Homo sapiens: one gene and its partners. The protein of the gene in region 2 interacts with the protein of the main gene of each other region in a pairwise test. Each region holds a gene or a part of one and is shown on either strand. Other genes may lie near its edges. The genes, in order: FHL5, CFP, LCE1A, PRKAB2, KCTD9, BANF2 and GNE.

Region 1 (3,999 bases), on a different chromosome or scaffold from region 2:
ACTCATTACAACATTGGACATCAAACTAGGAAGCATACATTTATTTCCTTTTATCTTCATTTTGCAGCTAAGAAAACTTAAAGTCATATAGAGAAAAAGGGGAAATGTATTCATACTTAGATATCTCTGACTTCACAACCTATACCTTCTTTCCACTATGCTACACTGTATTGTCTTATCTGGCTTAGACAACCTTATCTGTTTCCAAAAATACCTGACTTGCATATTAGCATTCTGCCTTCTTCTGTTGATTATGGCAGAATTTGGCTGTGAATCTGGTTGGGTGGCATAGGTGTAACTTTCCTACAGTGGATAGTTCCAGATGGACACAGGGCCAGGAAGCAGCATTCTTTTTTGGGTTATTTGCCTCTGCGTTGTTTTGCTCATAGCTCTATCTCCAGTTCCTAGAGGAGCATCTGCTAGAATGCTCAATCTGTTCCTTGAAAGGATAGATTAATCTTTTTCTCCAATTCCTTTACAGGTCTCACAGGTGCCAAGTTTATCTGCTTTCAAGACAGCCAGTGGCATAGCGAATGCTTTAACTGCGGGAAATGCTCTGTCTCCTTGGTGGGTAAAGGCTTCCTGACCCAGAACAAGGAAATCTTCTGCCAAAAATGTGGCTCCGGAATGGACACTGACATCTAGGAGACAGTCCTTGCCCACCTAAAATCCATTTTGCCTTCGTTGTCACTAAAGCCAGAACTCAGTTGCGGTCTTATTTTTGACTTAAGTTTTAGAAAATATTCATGTAGTTTAGAGTGGAAAAGTTTTTGCACACATTTTGATCGAACTATATTCTAAGCACACAAAAAGCACAGTAGAACAGAAATGAATATATGCTAAATCACAAAGACAACTCTCCTTGCAAAATACTGCACTCTGCTGTTAGAAGCAGAGGAAAATATCTCTTCATAATCAAATATATGACATATACCTAGGAGCTGTGGATGTAATTACTGAAGAATGAGGTTTTTCATACCTGAAGAGTAAAAGAAAAACTAAGAGATCAAACTGAGAGGTATACATGAGGCTAGTGTTTGCATTCCTGGTTATATGTAATGTGATAAATTAGCTATGAATGGTAAAAGAACAAAACTGATCAGAGTAAATTCATTAGCAATTATCACATTTAAGAATTGTTATCATTTAAAAATCATCCTTTTTTTCACACATACTGACTGTAGAATTAAAAAACAAAGCTACAATTTGCCCTCATACACACTGCTTCCACAGCTTGCTAGTTCTGTGTTTACTCAATGGAATATGAGAACTGAGGACATTATGGCTCTCATAATCTGCATAGGTATAAAGAGGATCATTTCTACCTAGGGATAGCCAAAGCATGGGTTTCAACACGTTTTGTATTAAATATATTTTCAAAGTCCACAGTGATTTTTCTAAACGCTTACAGATTCCATGAAATAAAAGTCTATTCTTTCAAGTGGAGCTAACCAGGATAATCTTTGTCCCCAAAGGCAAACCTTTAAAATAAATAGATCATTAAATCTTCACTTGTGGAAATGAGTTTTAGGGAAGGGATTGAGTCTTGGAACATGACTTTCATCCAGATATCTAACGACATAATAGAATGCATAATTAGCTCTGTGCCTCATGCATTATTGCCTTCTAAAATTACATAAATGATTAATGGGCAGACATAAAAGTGGGCTTTAAAGAAATCTAGTAATAATAAAAGCTGAAAAAGAATAATTCACTGCTGATAATTCAGAACCTGCAAAGCAGCACAATAGAGTAATGTGGGCTGTAGGCGAGCCCTCCCCACTCTTCCCCCACACCTGTGCCACACCCCCCTTACCCCAAGCCAGTTGTGCCCCCAGTTTCAATCTCCTGCATAACCAGGAGGTGCACTCCTAACCCTAAGCAACTGTCCTATAAGTCAGTCAGTGTTTATTGATCACACAGGAAGTAAAGAGCCTTAGTGAGAAGTCCATCACCAGGTTTATCTTTATACCAGACTTTAACTGATCATGACCCTATCTTGCTACCCCTGGATATTTTCCACATTACTTGGGACAAATGGAAAGCAACCTCTGCTCTCCATGATCTGTTTTCACATTGGTTATAGCATCTCTTGGATGGAGTAGAGGGAGGTCAGGAGAAGAAGCCCACATAGATATATAACTGTCTTCTCTCAGATTACACATTATAGCATTAAAGGTTTTGATTAAAATCTAATTGTAAGATACTGCTGATTACAATTACCAAAATAGCATCACAGGAGATTCAATTAAAATTGTTATGGAAATAATTTTTGAAATAGTTTAAAATGCAAGAATATTCAGCGATGTTAATAATTTAGAGATACTAATAAGTGTTCTGCTAGATAGACTATTTGAAAACTATAAATGTATTTTTGGATTAACAATGCCAAGGTATTTTTTCATATTCACATTGAAAAATACAGGCAAAACTATCAATATTTTTTCTGCATTATATGAAATTTCACAGGTAGAACTAAATCTATGATATAGAAAATAATAGCACATTACACATAGAGAAAACCAAGCCACTTAGGTTTAGATAGATATATAACATGTAACATCTTCTCTGTTAACCAATTATAGATACATATACAACATGTAATGTTTTCTTAGTTAAACAATTGGAAATGTTTAGGCATTTTACTGTGTGGGGGCAGTGAGTATGCACATGATCAGACTTGTATTCTAGCTTTACAATTAAAATTCACAGAATCATTTCCTAAAGATTTTATTATCCTTTCATAAGTATAAATATATATACTTTTACATATAAATAGTTCTGCATTTAGAAGGTATCCTACACATCAAACATCCATTAAACATGTACTATGCCAAAAGTTAGAGCTTATACTGTTGTGGGTCTGGAGTTGTAGGAGGATGGATCATGGTATGGAAATGCAGAAGTGCCTGATGCAAAGATCCTTGCCTGCAGGTTAAACAAAGCACCACATATGTAGACATAGCACACATATGCAAAACAACTAAGAAAAAGACCTCCTTAGGTCTTTGCGTAACACACACAAAGATAAATGTAAAAATTATATAGTTGATTTATATGGTTTATGTAACAAAGAGAAAAACTCCTTAATGGACTTATCCAAAGATGAAATGGACTGACTCAGGAAACAGTGGGCTCCCAGTAATTCAAAGGTGACATCTGCATGGGCAGGAAAGAAGTTAAAAGCAAATCCCATGTGCCAATAACAACCAGATGGCTTGGAAGTAGCAGAGACTGCCGAAGAGCAGGAGAAAATAAGATTGCTAAAAGAGAAAGAGTCAGAGGAAGGGAGAATATTAACTCTTAGGATAAAAAGTGACATAACCGGCCATAGAAAGTTACCAACTGTTCATAAGTAAAGGAAGAAAATAATTATTGTAGTGTTTGAGGAAAATTATGCTTTTGATCCTTTGTGGAATAGAACCAAAGAAAGCAAGGTTCCAAGGATTAAGTTTCTTACTGAAGGAATAAGTTTGGTTAATGGCTACAAAAGTGAAAAGAAAGAGGAAGAAGGCATTGAAGGCCACGAGTTACATTTGTTGGCAAAGATGAGTATGCAAGTCAACAAGTCAAAATATTTTATTTTGTCATGTTGGGGATTAAAGATGACAAAAGAAGCAAAAATGTATTTCTGCTTCAATAATAATGACTAGGAAGCCCAAGGGTTCAATTTTAACTTGGCATTATAAAAGTGTTAAATTGGGACAAACTAGCTCCACTGGTTAAGTAAAATGTGGTTATGTTACAATCCAGGCTTCAAAGCTTACATCGTTGCTATAACTTAAAAAAAAGAAACACTAGATTGTTCATTAGAGTAAAATATTGGCCTACCATTATGAAAAATGCATAACACTAATCACAAATGGTTAAAAAAAACTGCCAAATTTAATATCACAAATGAAAAGTCAATCCAAAAACACATTTCATGTTAGCAATACCATTTTTGAATTTAAGAAAAAAATAACTTTTAATCTACTTGGCATATTGTTAATTGTCTGT
Region 2 (4,149 bases):
GCCTTGGGGCCCTGTGAGCCCCTGCCCTGTGACCTGTGGCCTGGGCCAGACCATGGAACAACGGACGTGCAATCACCCTGTGCCCCAGCATGGGGGCCCCTTCTGTGCTGGCGATGCCACCCGGACCCACATCTGCAACACAGCTGTGCCCTGCCCTGGTCAGCATCTCAGGGTTCACGATTTGCATGCCTAAGTCCCCCTTGCCCTTCTCTGCTGCCCAGCTCCTGCTGCTGAGGCCTTGTTCCTGTCTCTGATTCCTCCTTTCCTGGCCCTGATACCTTGTTTCCACCCCTGGTCCCCCATTCACACATCTGATCACCTCTACTCCCTCCTACCGCCCTCATTCCTTCCTCTGAACCCCCTTGCTGATTCCCTGCTTTGGTCCAATCCCCTGTTGCCCTGTCTCTGCAGTGGATGGGGAGTGGGACTCGTGGGGGGAGTGGAGCCCCTGTATCCGACGGAACATGAAGTCCATCAGCTGTCAAGAAATCCCGGGCCAGCAGTCACGCGGGAGGACCTGCAGGGGCCGCAAGTTTGACGGACATCGATGTGCCGGGCAACAGCAGGATATCCGGCACTGCTACAGCATCCAGCACTGCCCCTGTGAGTGTCCCACAGACTGTGCTCTGAGGGTGGGGTGGCCCATGCAGGATAAGGGGTTTCCAACTCTCTGCTGTGGACCTCACGTCTCTGCAGCCTCCCTCTCACTTTCCCACCAAGACCTCCAGTTCTGACTCTGTGACCCCTACCCCTCATTGCAGTGAAAGGATCATGGTCAGAGTGGAGTACCTGGGGGCTGTGCATGCCCCCCTGTGGACCTAATCCTACCCGTGCCCGCCAGCGCCTCTGCACACCCTTGCTCCCCAAGTACCCGTGAGTGAGAGGGCAAAGTATGCCTGGGAGGGGGTCATTATATTACAGGCGGGAGAGTCGGCTACCCCAGGAAACCAGGGTTTCCACTGCTGAATCTAAGGTATCTGCCTTGCCGAGTGCCACCTCCCAGCTGCAGGAAGTGGGGAGAAACTAAGAAGATGAGAAAGAAGTTCTTGGAGGATAATTCGTAGCCTCTGTGCCCCTCAGTCACCTGTTCAGTCACTCATCCACTTAGTCCTTCATGTGTCATTGACTCCGACCTTCAGTTACCCATGCTTTTAGCTGCCATCACTCAGGCCTCCATTCACTGCCTGCCTCCCACAGTCACTCATGCCTCCATCCACTTTGTCAGCATCTCACTGAGCCAAGGCACTCCAAGGCTTTTTCAGCAACAGTTGCAGATACACACAGCCCAGATCCTGTGGATCCTCCAAGGGACCCAGCTGAGCAAGCCCCTGACAGGAGGCATATGAGGAACAGCTGGTGCATGCAACAGGTGCTGCCACCTCAACCTAGGTCCAGGAAGCTGACTGGGCCTCCCAGGGCAGGTAGGGGTTGGGAAAGGCATTCCTGGCATCAAGACTGTGAACGGAGCCTTGGAGCTAGGTGATTAGCCGCTATAAGTGTTTCCAGGTGCCAGAGGGGCCCAGGTGTTAGAGAGGGTTAAAATGTTCATCCCTTTTCTTCCTTCCACATACATCAAGCTACTAGATTAAGTGAACTATTCCCAGCTCGTGGAAGGGCTGCCATCTGGGAAGGGATCTCCCGGCTGAGGGGGTTAGAGTGGGGCCTGAAGATTAGAGGTGTTGAATGGAGGCACAAAGGACTTGAGTGAGCGAGAGACTGAGTGGAGGAAGAAGCAATTGAGAGAACTGGGATGGGAGTGAATGGAGGGCTTTCCTAGTGGGACAAATAACCCAGGTAAAGACCTTTCTGGACAGGGACTGAGCTTGAATAAAGTGGAGGAGACAGAGAGAGAGATTGGCTTGGGGCAGGGATTTGGGCCCAACAATAAGGCCTTGAATGTCAGGACAAGGCATTGGGTTTTTTCCTGGAGGCAGTGGAAAGAGATATAAAGGGTATATATTTCGGAGGTAAAAGAAAGTAGCTCATGCCAACAAGTAACATTCACCAGCATTTATTGAGCACTTGCTGTGTGCCAGGCACTGCTCTGAGCACTTTACCTGAATTAACTCATTTATCCTCATTCAACCCCGTGAGGTGAGTATTAATATTACTATTCCTACCATTCTCATTTTGCAGATGAGGGAAACCGAGGCACAGAGAAGCTAAAGAAATTGCCCAATATCCTATAGCTAAAAAGTAGTGTTGGGAGGCCAGGCACAGTGGCTCACGCCTGTAATCCCAGCAACACTTTGGGAGGCTGAGGCAGGAGCATCACTTGAGCCCAGGAGATTGAGGCTGCAGTGAGCTATGATTGTGCCACTGCACTGCAGCCTGGGCAACAGAGTGAGACCCTGCCTCAAAAAAAAAAAAGGAAAAAAAAAAAAAAAAAAAGTAGCCCTCGGCATATAGCAGGCACTCAATAAGAATTGAATGCATTCTTGCCTTCCCTGAGATTCTCCCTTCCGTTCCTCCCCACCCCTAATGCCTCAGGCCCACCGTTTCCATGGTCGAAGGTCAGGGCGAGAAGAACGTGACCTTCTGGGGGAGACCGCTGCCACGGTGTGAGGAGCTACAAGGGCAGAAGCTGGTGGTGGAGGAGAAACGACCATGTCTACACGTGCCTGCTTGCAAAGACCCTGAGGAAGAGGAACTCTAACACTTCTCTCCTCCACTCTGAGCCCCCTGACCTTCCAAACCTCAATAAACTAGCCTCTTCGAGTTCGTCTACGATTCCTTAAAGGAGGAAAAACAACCTATCCCCTTCCCCAAAAGTAGGGTGATAGCATCTCATAGGGCAAACAGCACAGCACGGGCCAAGACACAGCAGCCTGTTGCGGAAAACAGTATTTTCCACTGTGGTCGCAGGTTGGCAGGAGTGAAAGCGAGTGTGCAGTCCCAGCCTCTCCCCGCCGCTGCCATAACCCCAATGTCTGGGCCCTGCGCAGCCCCCTTAGAGCCTCAGGGCCGCCCGGCACGTTCCTCTGCAGAGCTCCGCGTTACGGGTTTCCTGATTGGCTACTTGTCCTGGCAGGCACTTCTTGATTGGCCGGCGTGCTTGTTCGTTGTCTCCCCGTCTCCTGGACCTCCCTAGATTCCCACCAGCCGGAACCCTGGAGGAGCCTCTGCCGGCCGACTCCGACTCCGCGTCAGTCGAGGATGAACGGCAGAGGCGTGGCCGAGGCTGGCACCCTGCCGCCCGAGCACCTGCACCCACCCACTCCCGACAGCCCAGCTCCAATGCCACAATTACCAGCGACAAATAGCTCGGCGAGGCGGGGGGCGGGCCGAGGAAGTGCCTGTGTTGCGCTCTGAGCTGAGGAGGGGCAAAGAAGCTAGAGTCAGTATCCGCCCGGAGGAGCCCCCAAGACAAATCCAGACACTTTCCTCTGGTAATTTGTTCATTCATTCAACACTTATTAGCGCCTGCTGTATGCTAAAGCTGAGTCTGAGCATCTAGGGTGGAGGAGGGCTGGTAGAAAGAGGACATCTGAGTGAGGGAACAGACTCAGAAGGTATTCCTTTCGTGTGAACATCTATTCAACACTTAACGCCTACTGTATACTAACAATAGTGCTGGACATCACGGAGAATAGAGAAGAAGAGGAATCAGAGCGTTACGTGTCTCCGCAGTAAAGGGAACAAAGCCAGACACCAGTGCTTTTAGCATTTGCTCATTCATTTACCACTTACTGAATGCCGGGCCCCTTGTGAAGAGACGCATCATAAGAATCATAATAATCATGGTAATAGCTACTACTTAGAAAGTACTTACTGTGTGCTTAGTAGTGTCTTAAGGCTTTCCATAGCATGAACTCATTTCGTCCACAGCAAACCCATGTGGGTAAGTATTATTATCCCCATTTTACAAAGGAAACACGCACAGAAAGGTAGTAGGCTGGACATTTTTGAAGCATCATGGATTGTGATGAGGTCTTAAATGTCAAGAGTGCTGTGGGTGGAGGGGACCCGTCTGTGTGGGAAGGTTCGGGTAGGAGGTTTGTGACATGCACACCCAGAGTATATTGGTACACTTACTTGACTTCTCTGGTTCGTTTTCCCCTTATTCAAGTGGACCAGTCAATGAGTTGAAGTGAAGATGAAGTTGATGAGTACTTACTTGGTCATCTTGGGAAGACTGAGCCAAAGTGA
Region 3 (2,424 bases), on a different chromosome or scaffold from region 2:
AGCTGGATTAGAAGAGGTGGAGAATGTCTAGAAATTCTGATGGAGTTCAAGCTGTGGGGCAGGAGAGATGGGAAGCACCTGGATGATTTGTATGTCTATGCTTCATGCTCTAATCCAAATTAGTTCTGTATTTTTTTTAGTGTCTCCCATTCCAGATAAGTTAAAACAAACTTTCCTTTCAGAGAGTAGATCTTAGCAACTCAACTGTGTCTCTTCCCCGAAGCCTGTACTGGGATTATAGTGGTTCTTAAATAATGGAGACCGGAGACCAGAGGAAGCATATTTGGAGCTTGATAAACACAGAGATACATGGCCCTTACACCTTCATCAGGAGTGAGTTAGTCATGAGTGGTGCCTGGGCATCTGTATATCAGAAGCTCCAGTGTTGAACAGCAAGTAACAAGTTGAAATTTATGGTTGCCAGGGTGGCAGATAGAGGAGTCTGTGGGTTCTAAGAGGGAGCTTCACTAGGCATGGATTCACCAGACCGGGAAATCTAGGGTCACGTGTCAGCTTGCTACAATTAGCTTTAGACCTCATTTCTCCATTTATAATATGATTTGGGATAGCCAGCTCATATGATGACCCTTTGCAATTCTGACTATAATATATTGTGTGTTTGTGTCAACCAAATACAGCCATCTGGGAAGCTCCTACAAAAGGGAATCTTTATTTTTATTTTATTATTTTATTTCATTTATTTTTGAGACAAAGTGTCATTCTATTGCCCAGACTGCAGTGCAGTGGCATGACCTTGGCTCCCTGCAGCATTGGCCTCCTGGGCTCAAACGATCCTCCAGCCTCAGCCTCCTAAGTAGTTGGGACTACAGGTGCGTGCCACCATACCCAGCTAATTTTTTTTTAGAGATAGGGTCTTCTTGCTTATTTTTTAAAAAGCAGAACTGCAGGTTTAAACTGGCTCCTAGATTGGACATTTTCAGAATTCTAAGTGGTGCAGAAGGGTAGACTTCAGTCAGATTCTGTGAATGTCAGATTGCCTTTTCCACTTAAAGGACATTAATTTTGGGCAAGTTTGTTAATACAGATGTCCTCATTATATTGCTGGGTTAAAATAAGATAGTCTATTTCTATTTTATAAAAACATCCTGATGATCCTATAACACATTGTGAAAGCATCTGACAAACAATTTTAGAGATAATTTCTCTCTGACTTATTTGAACAGGTTTTAAAAATGTAGCAAAAATAAATGATGGTAAAAAGGCAATAAGGGTGGCCTCTGTGCCTGGCTGTAACTTGCTGTTTGACTCTCCTTCAGCTCCTGAACACCCACCGCCGAGATGTCCTGCCAGCAGAGCCAGCAGCAGTGCCAGCCCCCTCCCAAGTGCACCCCCAAGTGCCCTCCCAAGTGCCCCACTCCTAAGTGCCCCCCAAAGTGTCCCCCTAAGTGCCCTCCAGTCTCTTCCTGCTGCAGTGTCAGCTCCGGAGGCTGCTGTGGCTCCAGCTCTGGGGGCGGCTGCAGCTCTGGGGGAGGTGGCTGCTGCCTGAGCCACCACAGGCGCCACAGGTCCCACCGTCACAGACTCCAGAGCTCTGGCTGCTGCAGCCAGCCCTCGGGAGGCTCCAGCTGCTGTGGAGGGGACAGCGGCCAGCACTCTGGAGGCTGCTGCTGAAGCGGACTCTGCACCTAGAAGAGCAGACTCGGGTGAAATGAGTGATCAAACATTTCCTCCTCACCTGTCTCCTCCTGGGCCTGCAAGAGTGGCTGAGATGCCCGCGTGAAGGCTCTGAGCTCTGGCCTAGAGGATCCCTCTGCCCTGGGATCCAGAAACTTGATTCTTCTCCCACAAACCTATCTGCTGCCCCTGACACCAACTGTGTTGTCTACTCTGGGATCCCAAGCCACAAACTCACTCTCCAGCTCATTTCCTGCAGCCTCAAGTGAAACAATAAAGCAAAAGATCTTCTTGCCACTTATTGTGGACTGTTCCTTGCCTGTTTGTGTCTCCAATATTTTTTTCACTGCTCTCTACTTTCCTGCTGCCTGGAAGCTTTGGAAATCAAGATGTGCTAGTCGCATGGCTAAAGATATGGAGGAGGGGAGAGAAAAACTTCTATGGCTCCTACTTTGACACCTTATGTCAGAGGAATCACTACGTGGCTCTGCCTGTGCCCATCTTCCTGGTGTTTCAGGAACACAGAGCCTTGTGCTTTGGACTTCTTCAGGGTCCTACTTGGTCTCCAGGGTGTGGCAGGGAGACAGATATGCACCCCATCCTTTCATCCATCTACCCCTCCTCCCCTTTACAATACTGCCCACTCACTCCCAAATTTCATTCTCTTTCAGTAAAAAATATTAGAAAATTATATGTAAACTTCCTGCAAACAGACCATGAATCTTAGACTATTCTAACTACAAGTATGCATAGAACATGTGGTAAATATGATCTGAAAAAACTTAAAAA
Region 4 (3,500 bases), on a different chromosome or scaffold from region 2:
AGTTATTCTTAACAAAGACACTAATATTTCTGTGAGTATCCTGAGTATTACTGGGGCATCTGGGGGTGTCTAGGACCATTTGGACCAAAGTTCAGTAATCCTAGAGGTTAGGATTACTACAGAGGTGTGTTGAGATTATAAGTCATACACATACCAATAACATTACAGATTTCCTTTTTCCAGTGGTGAGTCACAGCTTTTTCAGGTACTGATATAAAAATTCATAGTTGTCTCCTCATCCTAATAAAATCAGGATCAGAGCTATGGACTTCTTTTGAGCACAACATAAAGGAGTAGTTATCATTTGGGGGTGTACAAAAGAACTATGAAAGCTTTTTTGTATATAATTCATGTCTCTATTCAATCTACTTGATTCCTACTATGATTGTTTTTGCCTTGTAACACAACTCTTCCTTGTGTGTTGTGGGCAAGATTTTTGTTTTAGCTCTCTTAAGGAAGATTAGTAGATGCTGAGGCATGAGATTTCTGCCCTGGACTGATAATTTTTCTAATTTTCTGTAATAGGATTGTATTATTGATACATACTAGAGTGGGTGCATTATTGAAAAGAGATAGCGCATTCTAGTTTAAATTTCTCAAAGAGCTCTGAGGAAGAGTAAGCTGTTTGGTTTGTCTGTGCATTAATTTCATTTAGTAATTTTTTTAGTAATTTTTTTCTCTTTCTCTTAGTGTGACCCAGCCTTACTCCCTGAGCCCAACCATGTTATGCTGAACCATCTCTATGCATTGTCCATTAAGGTAAGTGGTGGCCCTGGCTCTTCACAGAGCTCCCTGGAATGAGAGGTCAAGGGTAACATACGTTCTCAGTGGTTACTTTCTCTGCTATTTCATTGAAGCTGAAGCTGGCAGTAATGATCAAATTATAGAAGAACTCTCTTTTTTTTAACTACTAGGTTGTTTGTTTTAAAATCTCAGTCTCTGTGTTCTGGCTGGCTGAATTGCCCTCTGATAGGACTTTTTTGCTGCCCAGTTATTTTTTGGGTGACTAGAATCTTTACACTAACTGTTTACTTAAGTTTGTGTTCATAGCATAGGATTTCTTCTGCAGAAAAAGCAGGTTTAGCTTCCAGTTCAAAGAATGCTTGAATGTGATATTAAGGCTTTCATTTTTTGAAGGTGGAATTGAGCTACTTTCAGGTGCCTCATTCATATATACTCAGGTGCTTGCATCTCTCCTATACACTAGTTAAAGGAGAGATGTGACCAGATTTGCCCTGTCCCGTCAACTCTAGAGTCCTCCTTGGTTTTTCTGCTGCTTTAGAGTCTGGGTTGGAAATAGCCATTCTGTTCTGTCTTGTTATGTCTTTGTGGTTTGGCTATTGGAATAAAGTTATATAGCTCTGCAGTTATCAAACCAGGCTGATTATCATTAGAGTCTCCTGGAGAAGATTGTAAAAATACAGATTCAGCAGCTCCATTCCTAGAGATTCTGAATAAGTGCATCTAGGATGGGCCCTATAATTTTTTTAAGCTGCTTTTACTTGGATATATAGCTGGATTCGGGAAATCACTGATATAGCTAACAAACTATGTGGTACAATATAACACTTAAAAATATATTATTGAATTTAATTTTTATAATAACGTTGTAAGTATTTTTAACTCCTGTTTTATAGATAAAGAAACTAAGGCTCAGAGAAGGTCAAATTGCCAGTAAGTACCAGAGACAGGACTGCTGAGGTCCAGTCCTCCTATGCTGACTTCATATTCTTTCCTATATTATCATTATGCCAGGTCTTTCCAAGTAGGTTTTTCTCAGGTATTCCTCATTTCCACAAAACCTGTGGAAGTGTAAAAGTGAATTGTTTACCTGCCTTGCTTCTGTCGTATTTAGGCTTTGTGTCAGCATGACTCTGGAGTGTTAACCCGAGAAGCATTCATGGTGGATAATACAGTACGGGGGAAGGTAGAAGGATACACTTGTTCTTAATCGGATTTGCTTGGGTTCTTTGGGATCTGATGGATTTTGCCTCCTGTAACTGCTCCTTGGATGTCATTTAATTTGCCTAGGCTTGCCATCTCCTCCTGTGGTACATCTGTAGTCTACAACACAGCCTGGGAAATGGTACCTCTTGCTGTCTTCTTACTGGTTCTGACTCAGGTGAAGGTGTTTGATTATTGTGGCTTAGCTTGGTTCTGACCCATTCCTGATTCTCTCATATTGTTTAGGCAGTTTGGAATTGATCCATTGGATTGGGTGTCTTTCTGAAGAGGATTTTGACATCTACTTTGTTCAAGGATAGAGAGGGATTCCTAGGTTCCCTCTAAATCAGAGAGATCTTTTGGAAGTCATCCCTGGTTTTAAATGAAAATTAGACCTGCTTTGGGACTTGGAAATAGTTTTTCAGAAGGATTGTTTCTTTTTTTCCTCATTGTCTTTAAGACTTTCTTCTAGAAATGGATGCCAGAATATTTTGTTCTTTTTTGTTTTTCTTGCTAGTTTTAGGCCCAACATTAGAATTTAAAGTAGGGAAGGGAGCAAGGTAGGAGACTATTATTTCTTCAGCCCTTTTATGTGTCAGAAACTGTGTCAGATATTCTCATGTAATCATCAGAGCAACCTTAATGGTAGGTGTTATCTTTTGTAATGATGAGATAAAAAGACTTGGACACACTAAGTAGATTACCCAAGGCCACAAGTAGAATGATGATAGGAGTCAGAATTGGAACTAAAACTTATTTGACCTCCTGCTCTTATATCAAACTATCTCTGTTAAAAGTGAGTGACTGTGAAGGACTGATGACTGGGAAGAGCTACCTACTGTCTGAAGTAATGAATTAGCTGCGTATGTTTCTTTTCCTTGCAGGACAGTGTGATGGTCCTTAGCGCAACCCATCGCTACAAGAAGAAGTATGTTACTACTCTGCTATACAAGCCCATTTGAAGGGATCCCTTCTTGCCTCTAAGGATTCAGGAGAAGCATCTCCCTTGCATTTCTGGACTGAACCAGTCTTACCTGAGACTGGAAGGCTGATTTGCTTTGAGGCTGATATGTGTGTTTCAGAGCCTCTGAGTAGGATGCTCTGCTTTTGCATTTGATTGCAGATGAGAGCTTTATGAGTTCACGGAATTTATTTTAAGAAAAAAAAATATACATATGAGAAGAAGGTAAATGGAAGCCTCCTAGCCCCAGCTAGAAGTATTGTTTCTGCCTGTGGGTTTTCACCAAGACCTGTTTGGGGGCGCTGCAGGAATAACTATATAGGAAGATTTTTCCTAAAATGAAAGAACAGCAAACTCTTAGGATCCTTGTTGGGTGGAGATTCTATCACTGCTACCTTGGCTCTCCAAGGAATGGGCTTGTGCTAGACCGCTGCCCTACTTAACAGCTGCCTCATTGCAAGGGCAGTTTTTCTTGCATGGGTTCTCTATATTCCCAGAGTATGTGGCACAATCTGTGTTGTTTATATGATACCAGATGCCCCACAAGAACCCTTATTCCTCTCATTTCACATTCTTCCTTTAATAGCCTCCTTCA
Region 5 (3,500 bases), on a different chromosome or scaffold from region 2:
TTTCACTAACACCAAAAAGTAGTGAGTGGCAGAGCTGGGATTCAAATCCAGATTTTTTTTTTTTTTTTTTTTTTTTTTTTTTTTTTGAGACAGGGTCTCGCTCTGTCACCCAGGCTGGAGTGCAATGGTGTGATCTCTGCTCACTGCAACCTATGCCTCCTGGGTTCAAGTGATTCTCCTGCCTCAACTTCCCAAGTAGATGGGATTACAGGCACACACCATGATGCCCAGCTAATATTTGTATTTTTTTTGTTTTGAGATGGAGTCTTGCTGTGTCACCCAGGCTGGAGTGCAGTGGCGCGATCTCGGCTCACTGTAAGGTCCGCCTCCTGGATTCACGCCATTCTCCTGCCTCAGCTTCCCGAGTAGCTGGGACTACAGGCACCTGCCACCACGCCTGGCTAATTTTTTGTATTTTTAGTAGAGACAGGGTTTCACCATGTGTTGGCCAGGCTGGTCTCGAACTCCTGACCTCAAGTGATCTACCCACCTCAGCCTCCCAAAGTGCTGGGATTACAGGTGTGAGCCCGGCCTGTCTTTTGTATTTCTATGGCTTCTCTGGATGTTTTAAAGGTTTAATTCTAAACCTAGAATTGGAAACGTATCCTGGCTGCATTCCCTAAGAGTTCTGCTTTACTTAGACCTTGGCAAATTGAGAGCGTGGCCCACAAGAACCTCTTTTATAATATGTTGAGTTTCCACCAGGGATATATATCCGAACGGAATGGCATAATCTTTGGATGCCTCTTGAAGGGGAAATGTGGACCCTGTATGCCAGAGTGGTAGCCCGATGCTGTACCTTGGATGACGTTTGTTTTACAATTGGATTGTTGACCATAGAGTTTGGTCTTCACAGAAAAGATTGTATTATTCTTCCCAAATAACTGCTTCTGGTTTTCTGTATCTACTTACCCTTATTAGCTTGTAAGTGTTTGAAGGGAGGGATTATGTCTGATACTTTCTTTGTAATTCCAGAGTTCTAAGTAGTTTTTTACTGAGTCAACAGCCAACTGATTGAGGTCTTCTCATTTGAAAGATAATGGAACCCAAATGTATTCCCACACATTCTGATGATGTTTATTAACAGATTAGAATAAGTAAATATACCAAGTCATGTAAAGGATGTACATTTTTTTTTACCAAGTTAAAGTAAATGATAAATGAAAGCTCTTTTAGTATTTACAAATATTTTAAAATTTATTCTCCTATAAGACAGATTTCTGAATTATACTTTTGACTTTTTTGTACTTTTTAAACTTTTATTCATTTCTATCATTTTCTGATTCAGTATGTAAAAGATACTTGTGGCAAACCTGTTCAGATCTGCTCCATTTAAAAAGGCAATTAAATGTTAAGATTATGTGAACTAATCGTATTTTAGTAAATTCAAAATGAATGTAATACATTCACTAAATTAGGTTGTTTCAGAATTATTTTTGTTCTGATAGGTGTGTTAGAAGAAGCAAGATTTTTTGGTATTGACTCATTGATTGAACACCTAGAAGTGGCAATAAAGGTAAGCCTGTTTTTACATTAGCCAGTGTTACATTCATTGTAGCTATCTCCCAAAAGACTCCACTAATTTCTTAATGTCTTTTTTAAGAATTCTCAACCACCGGAGGATCATTCACCAATATCCCGAAAGGAATTTGTCCGATTTTTGCTAGCAACTCCAACCAAGTCAGAACTGCGATGCCAGGTAATTAGCAGGCTTTTACATCAATTATTTCTATCAGCAAATCTATGAATAAAATTTTACATTCTTCTAGTGTTTTGGGATTATCTTGCTTTGTTTTTCTTTTACATGCAAGATCTAATTTAATTATGAGTCATAGCATTGATTTAGTTCTGAAATGGTTAACGAAAAAGAGATGCAATAATAGCCTTTTTAAATTGTCTAATTATACCTCATGCAACAGTTTATGAATAATGCATAGAAATTGCAGCAGTTTTTTAAAAGTCAGTATTTGTACATTTGCAATATATGGGCTGATCAGTGGCAGGTACTTTACTTATGTGTACTATAGCATTTCAAATTGTAAAGACCACAGTACTCATTTTTGCCTAATAAACTGTTTTGAATTACTGAATTAATAAAATAATTTAAATATAATTAGGTTTAAATACTTATTAGCAGGTATAGGACTAACAGGGATCCCTCTTTAGAAGCTTCTACACAGAAATGAATTATAGCCGGGCTATATTCTAATGTATATATTGATAGAGTTTCTTTTATGAGGAACCTATTTAAGGACACTTCTTTTATGTATCTAAGTTCCATTTTATCATGTTCTGTAATAAACTCCAAGTGACTGAACTGCCAATTGCTTCTAAAAAAAACTTGGTGGTTAGCTATAGTAATTAAATTTAATACAAACAGACGATTTAGTTATGGTGACAATTTGTGCTTTTTTATTTCAGGGTTTGAACTTCAGTGGTGCTGATCTTTCTCGTTTGGACCTTCGATACATTAACTTCAAAATGGCCAATTTAAGCCGCTGTAATCTTGCACATGCAAATCTTTGCTGTGCAAATCTTGAACGAGCTGATCTCTCTGGATCAGTGCTTGACGTAAGTATCATTTTAGGCTACAAGAGAAAATTAAATGTTTAGTCTATTGAACAGTCTCAAAGAGCCTTTGAGACAGGAATTATAACTATCTTTTACTGGAGCTTTTACTTGAAAACAGATAATTTATTATGTTGATATAAGACTAAAGGTCTGAAAGTGAAATGAATTTGGTTTTACAGGTTTGATATCCTTTATTAAACATAGACTTGAAAGGTTTAGTAACTAATAAGAAATTAAATCTTGGAATTAGTTCTTGATCTCCTCAATATACTGTACTTTATTTATCAGGACTCATATTTTCAGCTAATTGTAAAGGTAAAGCTGAAAGGAACCTTGAAATCTATTCAGCCTCATTTCTGGAATGGGAAAATGTTACTGCTCAAGAAGTATTTGACAGATATTTTGAAATAAACATGGTATGCATCAGTTTGTGGAAGTTAACATCTCAGTGGCGTTTTCCCTCTCTCTACATATATGTGTATATTTATATATATGTATATGTATGTATTTATAACAGTTATCTGTGTTTATTTGAAGTTAGAGGATATATGCAGACCAACAATGAAATCTATTAATTTTTAACAACTTTAAGTTCCTTACCACCAAGGCCCGTGTCTGTATGTCTTTTGAATTAATACCATCTTGCTTTTGGTAGTCATTTATTGAATTACTCTAATTTGGGTTTTACTCATTAGCTGCAGCTTATTTTTCCATGAAGCTGTGTATCAGGGCGAGTAACAAAATCTACCAAATATGCATTTTAGTTACTTTCACTGTCCTTTATTCTGTCTTATCATGAAGGGTCAGGTTAGTAGCAAAACAGGAAAAAGACTAACATCAAAAAAACGTTTGAAGGACCTAATCTTTAAATAGTGAAATGTCGAGAGGCATCTTTGTTTGTGTTAAGGACAAAAAAAAAAAGATGTTTG
Region 6 (2,703 bases), on a different chromosome or scaffold from region 2:
GAGGATTCACACCAAAGACACAGAGTTTAAGCCGGGCGTGGTAGCTCCTGCCTGTAATCCCAGAACTTTGGGAAGATCACTTGAGGTCAGGAGTTCAAGACCAGCCTGGCCAACATGGTGAAATCCCGTCTGTATAGAAAATACAAAATTAGCCACGCATGGTGGTGCATGCCTGTAATCCCAGCTACTTGGGAGGCTGAGGCAGGAGAATCACTTGAACCTGGAAGGTGGAGGTTGCAGTGAGCCGCTATCGTGCCACTGCACTCCAACCTGGGCTATAGAGTGAGACTCTGTCTCAAAATAAAAGAAGAAGAAAAAAAAACACACAAGAGTTTAAACCTGAAATGACATGAAGACTTAGGCGACTGGCGAGAGAGAATCAAAGAAAGTTGTGTCACTGCACCATGGAGTCTGGTGGTGATTGAAGTCCGTTCAGCACAGGTGCTCAGGACCTGCGGACTTGGGCAGAGGGCATTGTAAGCAGCTAGAGAACAAGAGAGGGCAGAGACAGCTTATCTCTGCTTGACAAGGCCCAGCATTATGGTGAGTACTGAGCATTTTAATAAGTGTGGATCTCAGCCAGCTATTTAATTTTTAGGGCCCACTGTAAAATGAAAATGCAAGACCTCTAGTTCAAATTTATTAGGGGGTGTAGTGGCACGTGCTTGTAGTTCCAGCTACTCGGGAGGCTGAGGTGGGAGGATCATTTGAGCCCAGGAATTTATGGTTGCCAAGAGCTACTGCATGCTACTGAACTCTAGCCTGTGTGACGGAATGAGATCCCGTCTCTTAGGAAAAAAAAAAAAAAAAAAAAAAGTAGGCCAGGCGTGATGGCTCACTCCTGTAATCCCAGCACTTTGGGAGGCCGAGGCGGGCAGATCACGAGGTCAGGGGATCGAGACCATCCTGGCTAACTTGGTGAAACCCTGTCTCTACTGAAAATACAAAAAATTATCCAAGCGTGGTGGCACGCACCCGTAGTCCCACCTACTCGGGAGGCTGAGGCAGGAGAATCGCTTGAACCTGGGATGCAGAGGTTGCAGTGAGCCAAGACCGTGCCACTGCACTCCATCCTGGGCAACAGAGGGAGACGTCGTCAAAAAAAAAAAAGAAAAAAAGGAAAACTAATAAAAAAATAAAAGAAATTTAGTAAGAATTTCCAGATGACAAGAGCCAAGTGTTAAACCAGCTCAGGGTGCTCTTAGCACCAGGCGCTGTGTGAAAACATGGCTCAGATGCAAGGGAACCCAACCCTGGCATAGGCTCAAACTGCTGCTGTTTAGCAAGAAGTGGGCACCGCAAACTGGAGGGTGATTCCTCCCCTGCTTGGGGGCCGGCCCCTGGAGGAACCTCACTGTTTGCACTTGGAGTTTAGGGGCATTCTGCCCTTGAGCCCCCATCCTTTTGTTTGTTTGTTTCGAGACAGAGTCTCACTCTGTTGCCCAGGCTGGAGTGCAGTGGCATAATCTCAGCTCATGCAATCTCCACCTCCTGGGTTCTCCTGCCTCAGCCTCCCAAGTAGCTGGGATTACACGCGGCTGCCACCATACCAGGCTAATTTTTGTATTTTTAGTAGAGATGGGGTTTCACTATGTTGGCCAGGCTGGTCTCGAACTCCTGACCTCAGATGATCTGCCCGCTCAGCCTCCCAAAGTGCTGGGATTACAGGAGTGAGCCACCACACCTGGCCGAGCCCCCCCTCTTACAGCTGCAGGACGGAATGTAATTCCCTGGCTTGGCCATGGCCACGGCCACTGTCCAGAGTGGTAGGAGGACAGGGACAGCTGCTCAGGGTTTCTGTGTTTCTGTGTCACCCCTCCCACCCCAGTAGCTGAATTCTGGGGAGCTCTGGCCCAAGGAGGGAAAGGGGCAGCATCTTTTCTCCTTGATTAGGGGGCTTTCTGGAGCCGGGGGAGAAACCAAGCGGGCATCTGGCAGGGCCATGATGGGAGCCCACGACTCCAGCTTCCCTGGGGAGCAGGGTGAAGTGCTCAGGGAAGAAGGGAGAAGGGAAGCCAACTTTCCCTCCTGGAAGATGCCACAGGGAGACAGGAGGGAAAACTGAGGAGGGAGTGTCAGGTTGCCACTTGGCTCCAGAGGCTGCAAGACGGGGCTTCCTGTAGCATTCCTGGAAAGTTTGCCCAGGGTCCACATGTTCCCAGGCATCCTGGCTGCTGAGCCTGTGGGTATGTGGAGGCTCTCACTAACAGGCCAGCTGATGCTGGCAGTGCCACTTCTAAAACGGGCAGGGGATGCATTAGCCTCCAGGCCAGACTGTGGACAGTTGGGAAGTGCAGGAATAGTGCAGAGGAAAACAGGAGACTTAGTACCTCCACCTGGGGAATGGGAGGGGTGAGTACATGTGAGGATCAGGTGGATTAAAACGTGTCAGGTGTCTAGCAGCACGTGGCCGACAGAAGTGCTAAAAAGTGCTACTTAGCATTAACTACTATTATTAAGTATTATCATGAACATTTCTCTTTATGGAGAAAGCTTTGTGTAAGCCACTTACTATTAATTATTGTTAATTATTATTAATATTCTCTCTCCTTGGACACAGCTCTATGTCTCTCGTTTCTGTTACCTTCACCTTGGCACCTCCCACACCTACGTCTACTGGCTCAATTAACACTTAATAAATGTTATTTTTCAAAAACATTAATTTAAATACATCTCAGTAAAATCCATTCAAAATGGGAGGAT
Region 7 (3,500 bases), on a different chromosome or scaffold from region 2:
TTTTTTTTTGAGATGGAGTCTTACTCTGTTGCCTAGCCTGTAGTGCAGTGGCTCAGTCTCGGCTCACTGCAACCTCCACTTCCCGGGTTCAAGCGATTCTCCTGCCTCAGCCTCCTGAGTAGCTGGGGTTACAGGCGCACACCACCACACCTGGCTAATTTTTTTTTGTATTTTTAGTAGAGACGGGGTTTCACTATGTTGGTCAGGCTGGTCTCAAACTCCTGACCTCATAATCCGCCCACCTCGGCCTCCCAAAGTGCTGAGATTACAGGCATGAGCCACCGCGCCTGGCTCATTTTTATTTTTAATGCTTTTCTTATAGAATTGTTGGAATACTCAGATTATGAATGTTGGAAGCAGTAAGCCATAAGTACTTATTAATATAAGGGATTATGATGATTATTAAAAAGCAAAAGTCATAGTTGTAGCCTTAGAGTATATCTTTGTAAATAAGCCCTATGTTCCAAAATTTTTATTGTTCAGTGCTCTAGCTTCCTAGAAATTATCTTTTGCTAATCAGAGGTAAAAAAATCCAAGTTTACAAACAGAATGTCAGTTGGTTAATTTATAGTAAGAGTACTACCTAGGGGACAAATTAGGACTAATAATCTATTTAGGACCTTTCATTTCTAAGAGGCAGATCTATTGAATTATAAAATTAATGAACAGAAAATTGATTTGGTTGGGTCAGGTATGGTGGCTCACCCTGTAATCCCAGCACTTTGGGAGGCTGAAGTGGGAGTATTGCTTGAGCCTAGGAGTTACAAGGCCAGCCTGGGCAACATAGCAAGACGCTGTCTCTACAAAAAATAAGAAAATTAGCTGGGCGTGGTGCTGTGTGCATGTAGTCCTAGTTACCTGGGAGGCTGGGATGGGAGGGTCACTTGAGCCTGAGTAGTTGAGGCTACAGTGATCTGTGATTACACTGCTGCACTCTAGCCTGGGTGACAGAGTAAGACCCTGTCTCAAACAAAACAAAACAAAAAAAAACAAAAAACAATAACAAAAAAAAAACACAGAAAGAAAAAGAAAATTGAATAAGCAAAGAGATTTTGTATATTTTTAATCTAGATTACATTACATCAGGAAAGGAATTGGGCTTTCCTGCTATATAACGTACTCCATTCTACATATTTCTGTTGTTCAGTCTGGAGTGCAGTGGTGCAGTCTTGTCCTCCTGGGCTCAAGTGATCCTACCACCTCAGCCTCCTGAGTAGCTGGGACTACAGGCATGTACCACCATGCCCAGCTAATTTTTAAAATTTTTTTGTAGAGATGGGGTCTCACTATTTTGCCCAGGCTAGTCATGAATTCCTAGGCTCAAGCAATCCTCCTGCCTCGGCCTCCCAAACTGCTGGGTTTATAGGCATGAGCCACCGCACCTGGCCCATTCTAAATATTTCTTATGCTTGGACAGATTTGTAATTATCAAGGGATCGTCTAGATAATGCTGGTGGAACAACCTTCTGTCTCTTCAGTCTCTCCTTTTAGTATGCTTCCGATGAAACACTCTTGGATTCTGTTCTAATTATACCATTAGCTCTCTAGGTATTCTGGAAAACTTGTATCACTGAAAAACTTGTAATGAATAGAAAATAATAATGTGCCAGATGTGGTGGCACATGCCTGTAATCTCTGTACTTTGAGAGGCCAAAGTGGGCAGATCACTTGAGCCTAGGGGTTTGAGAACAGCCTGGGCAACGTGGTGAAACTCTGTCTTTACAAAAAATACAAAAATCAGCCGGGTGTGATGGTGTGTGCCTGTAGTCCCAGCTACTCCGGAGGCTGAAGTGGGAGGATTGCTTGAGTCTGGGAGTTCAAGACTGAAGTGAGCCATGATTGTGCCACTGCACTCCAGCCTCGGTGACAGAATAAGACCCTGTCTCAAAAAAACAAAACACTAGTTTTGGCCAGGTGCCAGTGGCTCATGCCTGTGACCCTAGCACTTTGGGAGGCCCAGGCAGGTGGATCACTTGAGGTCAGGAGTTGGAGACCAGCCTGGCCAACATGGTGAAACCCCATTTCTAGTAAAAATACAAAAATTAGCCAGGTGTGCTGGCACATGCCTGTACTCCCAGCTACTCAGGAGGCTGAGGCAGGAGAATTGCTTGAACCCAGGGAGGTTGCTGTGAGCCGAGATTGCACCACTGCACTCCACACTCCAGCCTGGGTGAAGAAGCGAGACTCCATCTCAAAAAAAAAAAAAAAAAAAAAAACAAGCATAAAACCCAGGCCAGATGCGGTGGCTCACACCTGTAATCCCAGCACTTTGGGAGGCCACGGCGGGCAGATCATGAGGTCAAGAGATTGAGACCATCCTGGCCAACATGGTGAAACCCCATCTCTACTAAAAATACAAAAATTAGCTGAGCATGGTGGCGCACACCTGTAGTCCCAGGTACTTGGGAGGCTGAGGCAGAAGAATTGCATGAAACCCAGGAGGCGGAGGCTGCAGTGAGCCGAGATCGCGCCACTGCACTCCAATCTGGCAACAGAGCGAGACTCCGTCTCAAAACAAAAAACAGCAAATAACCATTAGAAAGCAGAATGTAGCAAAATTGAATTGTACTTGTAGGGCTTAAAGTCCTATTTGGGACAATTTAAGCAGTTCTTTATGGAAAGAAGGACAACAGAACAGCTAAAATTGCTTTTTTTTTTTTTGGTCTTTAAACCAGTGAAAAAGAAAACTCAAGACAATGAGGCAGAGCCATCCACCACTGGGCAGTAATACATTTTATATAAAACCTGTTCCTGCTTCTTGATATGCAACTTCTTTTTTTTTTTCTTTTTTTTGAGACAGAGTCTTGCTCTGTTGCCAAGGCTGGAGTTCTGTCACCTAGGCTGGAGTGCATTAGCGCAGTCTCGACTCACTGCAACCTCTGCCTCCCAGGTTTAAGCAATACTCCTGCCTCAGCCTCCTGAGTAGCTGGGACTACAGGCGCACACCACCACACCTGGCTAATTTTTGTATTTTTAGTAGAGATGGGGCTTCATCATGTTCGCCAAGTTCGTCTCGAACTCCTGACCTCAGGTGATCCGCCCTCCTCAGCCCTCCAAACTGCTGGGATTATAGGCATGAGCTACCGCACCTGGCCTTAATATGGAACTTCTCATGCTATCACTCTGCTTACAGGAAGATAGGGTTGGGTAGGCCATATATAACATTGCAGCTTTGTAACCAGAGTGTTAATATATAACAATCTTAATTTTAAAATTAGCAATGTTAAAAAGGCATGTTAAATTCCTAATAATGAAAGGCATATCACAGTAAATATAGGACTTTACAACAGAAAACAAAATGCCTTTATGGAAAGGATTTATGAAAGGGCTGAGGCTGCTGAATTATGGATAGATACAAAGACTGGTAATAATATCAGAAGTGCCAGGTGGAGAAGCAGGTGCAAACTTTGTATGAAATGTATTCTTGCCAGGGATGAGTTGCTCTGGCTCATTGTCTTGCGTTTTACTTTTCCCTGGTCTAAAAAGACTTCTAGTTTTTG

The links.
Region 1: the proteins of CFP (region 2) and FHL5 interact in binary tests that used the Homo sapiens proteins (3 or more experiments, as listed by UniProt).
Region 3: the proteins of CFP (region 2) and LCE1A interact in binary tests that used the Homo sapiens proteins (3 or more experiments, as listed by UniProt).
Region 4: the proteins of CFP (region 2) and PRKAB2 interact in binary tests that used the Homo sapiens proteins (3 or more experiments, as listed by UniProt).
Region 5: the proteins of CFP (region 2) and KCTD9 interact in binary tests that used the Homo sapiens proteins (3 or more experiments, as listed by UniProt).
Region 6: the proteins of CFP (region 2) and BANF2 interact in binary tests that used the Homo sapiens proteins (3 or more experiments, as listed by UniProt).
Region 7: the proteins of CFP (region 2) and GNE interact in binary tests that used the Homo sapiens proteins (3 or more experiments, as listed by UniProt).

What each region holds. Positions count from the first base shown.
Region 1 is NC_000006.12:96,615,128-96,619,126, forward strand, and holds the end of FHL5 (four and a half LIM domains protein 5), read left to right. Parts: intron 1-481; coding exon 482-645; 3' UTR 646-3,499; downstream 3,500-3,999. UniProt on the Homo sapiens protein: May be involved in the regulation of spermatogenesis. Stimulates CREM transcriptional activity in a phosphorylation-independent manner.
Region 2 is NC_000023.11:47,622,782-47,626,930, reverse strand, and holds the end of CFP (properdin precursor), read left to right. Parts: coding exon 1-158; intron 159-411; coding exon 412-603; intron 604-761; coding exon 762-873; intron 874-2,490; coding exon 2,491-2,656; 3' UTR 2,657-3,649; downstream 3,650-4,149. UniProt on the Homo sapiens protein: A positive regulator of the alternate pathway (AP) of complement. It binds to and stabilizes the C3- and C5-convertase enzyme complexes. Inhibits CFI-CFH mediated degradation of Complement C3 beta chain (C3b).
Region 3 is NC_000001.11:152,826,174-152,828,597, forward strand, and holds LCE1A (late cornified envelope protein 1A), read left to right. Parts: upstream 1-1,299; coding exon 1,300-1,632; 3' UTR 1,633-1,924; downstream 1,925-2,424. UniProt on the Homo sapiens protein: Precursors of the cornified envelope of the stratum corneum.
Region 4 is NC_000001.11:147,158,971-147,162,470, reverse strand, and holds part of PRKAB2 (5'-AMP-activated protein kinase subunit beta-2), read left to right. Parts: coding exon 1-31; intron 32-690; coding exon 691-759; intron 760-1,637; coding exon of another isoform or gene 1,638-1,674; intron 1,675-2,828; coding exon 2,829-2,906; 3' UTR 2,907-3,500. UniProt on the Homo sapiens protein: Non-catalytic subunit of AMP-activated protein kinase (AMPK), an energy sensor protein kinase that plays a key role in regulating cellular energy metabolism.
Region 5 is NC_000008.11:25,434,434-25,437,933, reverse strand, and holds part of KCTD9 (BTB/POZ domain-containing protein KCTD9), read left to right. Parts: intron 1-1,448; coding exon 1,449-1,516; intron 1,517-1,603; coding exon 1,604-1,699; intron 1,700-2,421; coding exon 2,422-2,571; intron 2,572-3,500. UniProt on the Homo sapiens protein: Substrate-specific adapter of a BCR (BTB-CUL3-RBX1) E3 ubiquitin-protein ligase complex, which mediates the ubiquitination of target proteins, leading to their degradation by the proteasome.
Region 6 is NC_000020.11:17,730,966-17,733,668, forward strand, and holds part of BANF2 (barrier-to-autointegration factor-like protein), read left to right. Parts: intron 1-2,703. UniProt on the Homo sapiens protein: May play a role in BANF1 regulation and influence tissue-specific roles of BANF1.
Region 7 is NC_000009.12:36,241,449-36,244,948, reverse strand, and holds part of GNE (bifunctional UDP-N-acetylglucosamine 2-epimerase/N-acetylmannosamine kinase), read left to right. Parts: intron 1-3,500. UniProt on the Homo sapiens protein: Bifunctional enzyme that possesses both UDP-N-acetylglucosamine 2-epimerase and N-acetylmannosamine kinase activities, and serves as the initiator of the biosynthetic pathway leading to the production of N-acetylneuraminic acid (NeuAc), a critical precursor in the synthesis of sialic acids.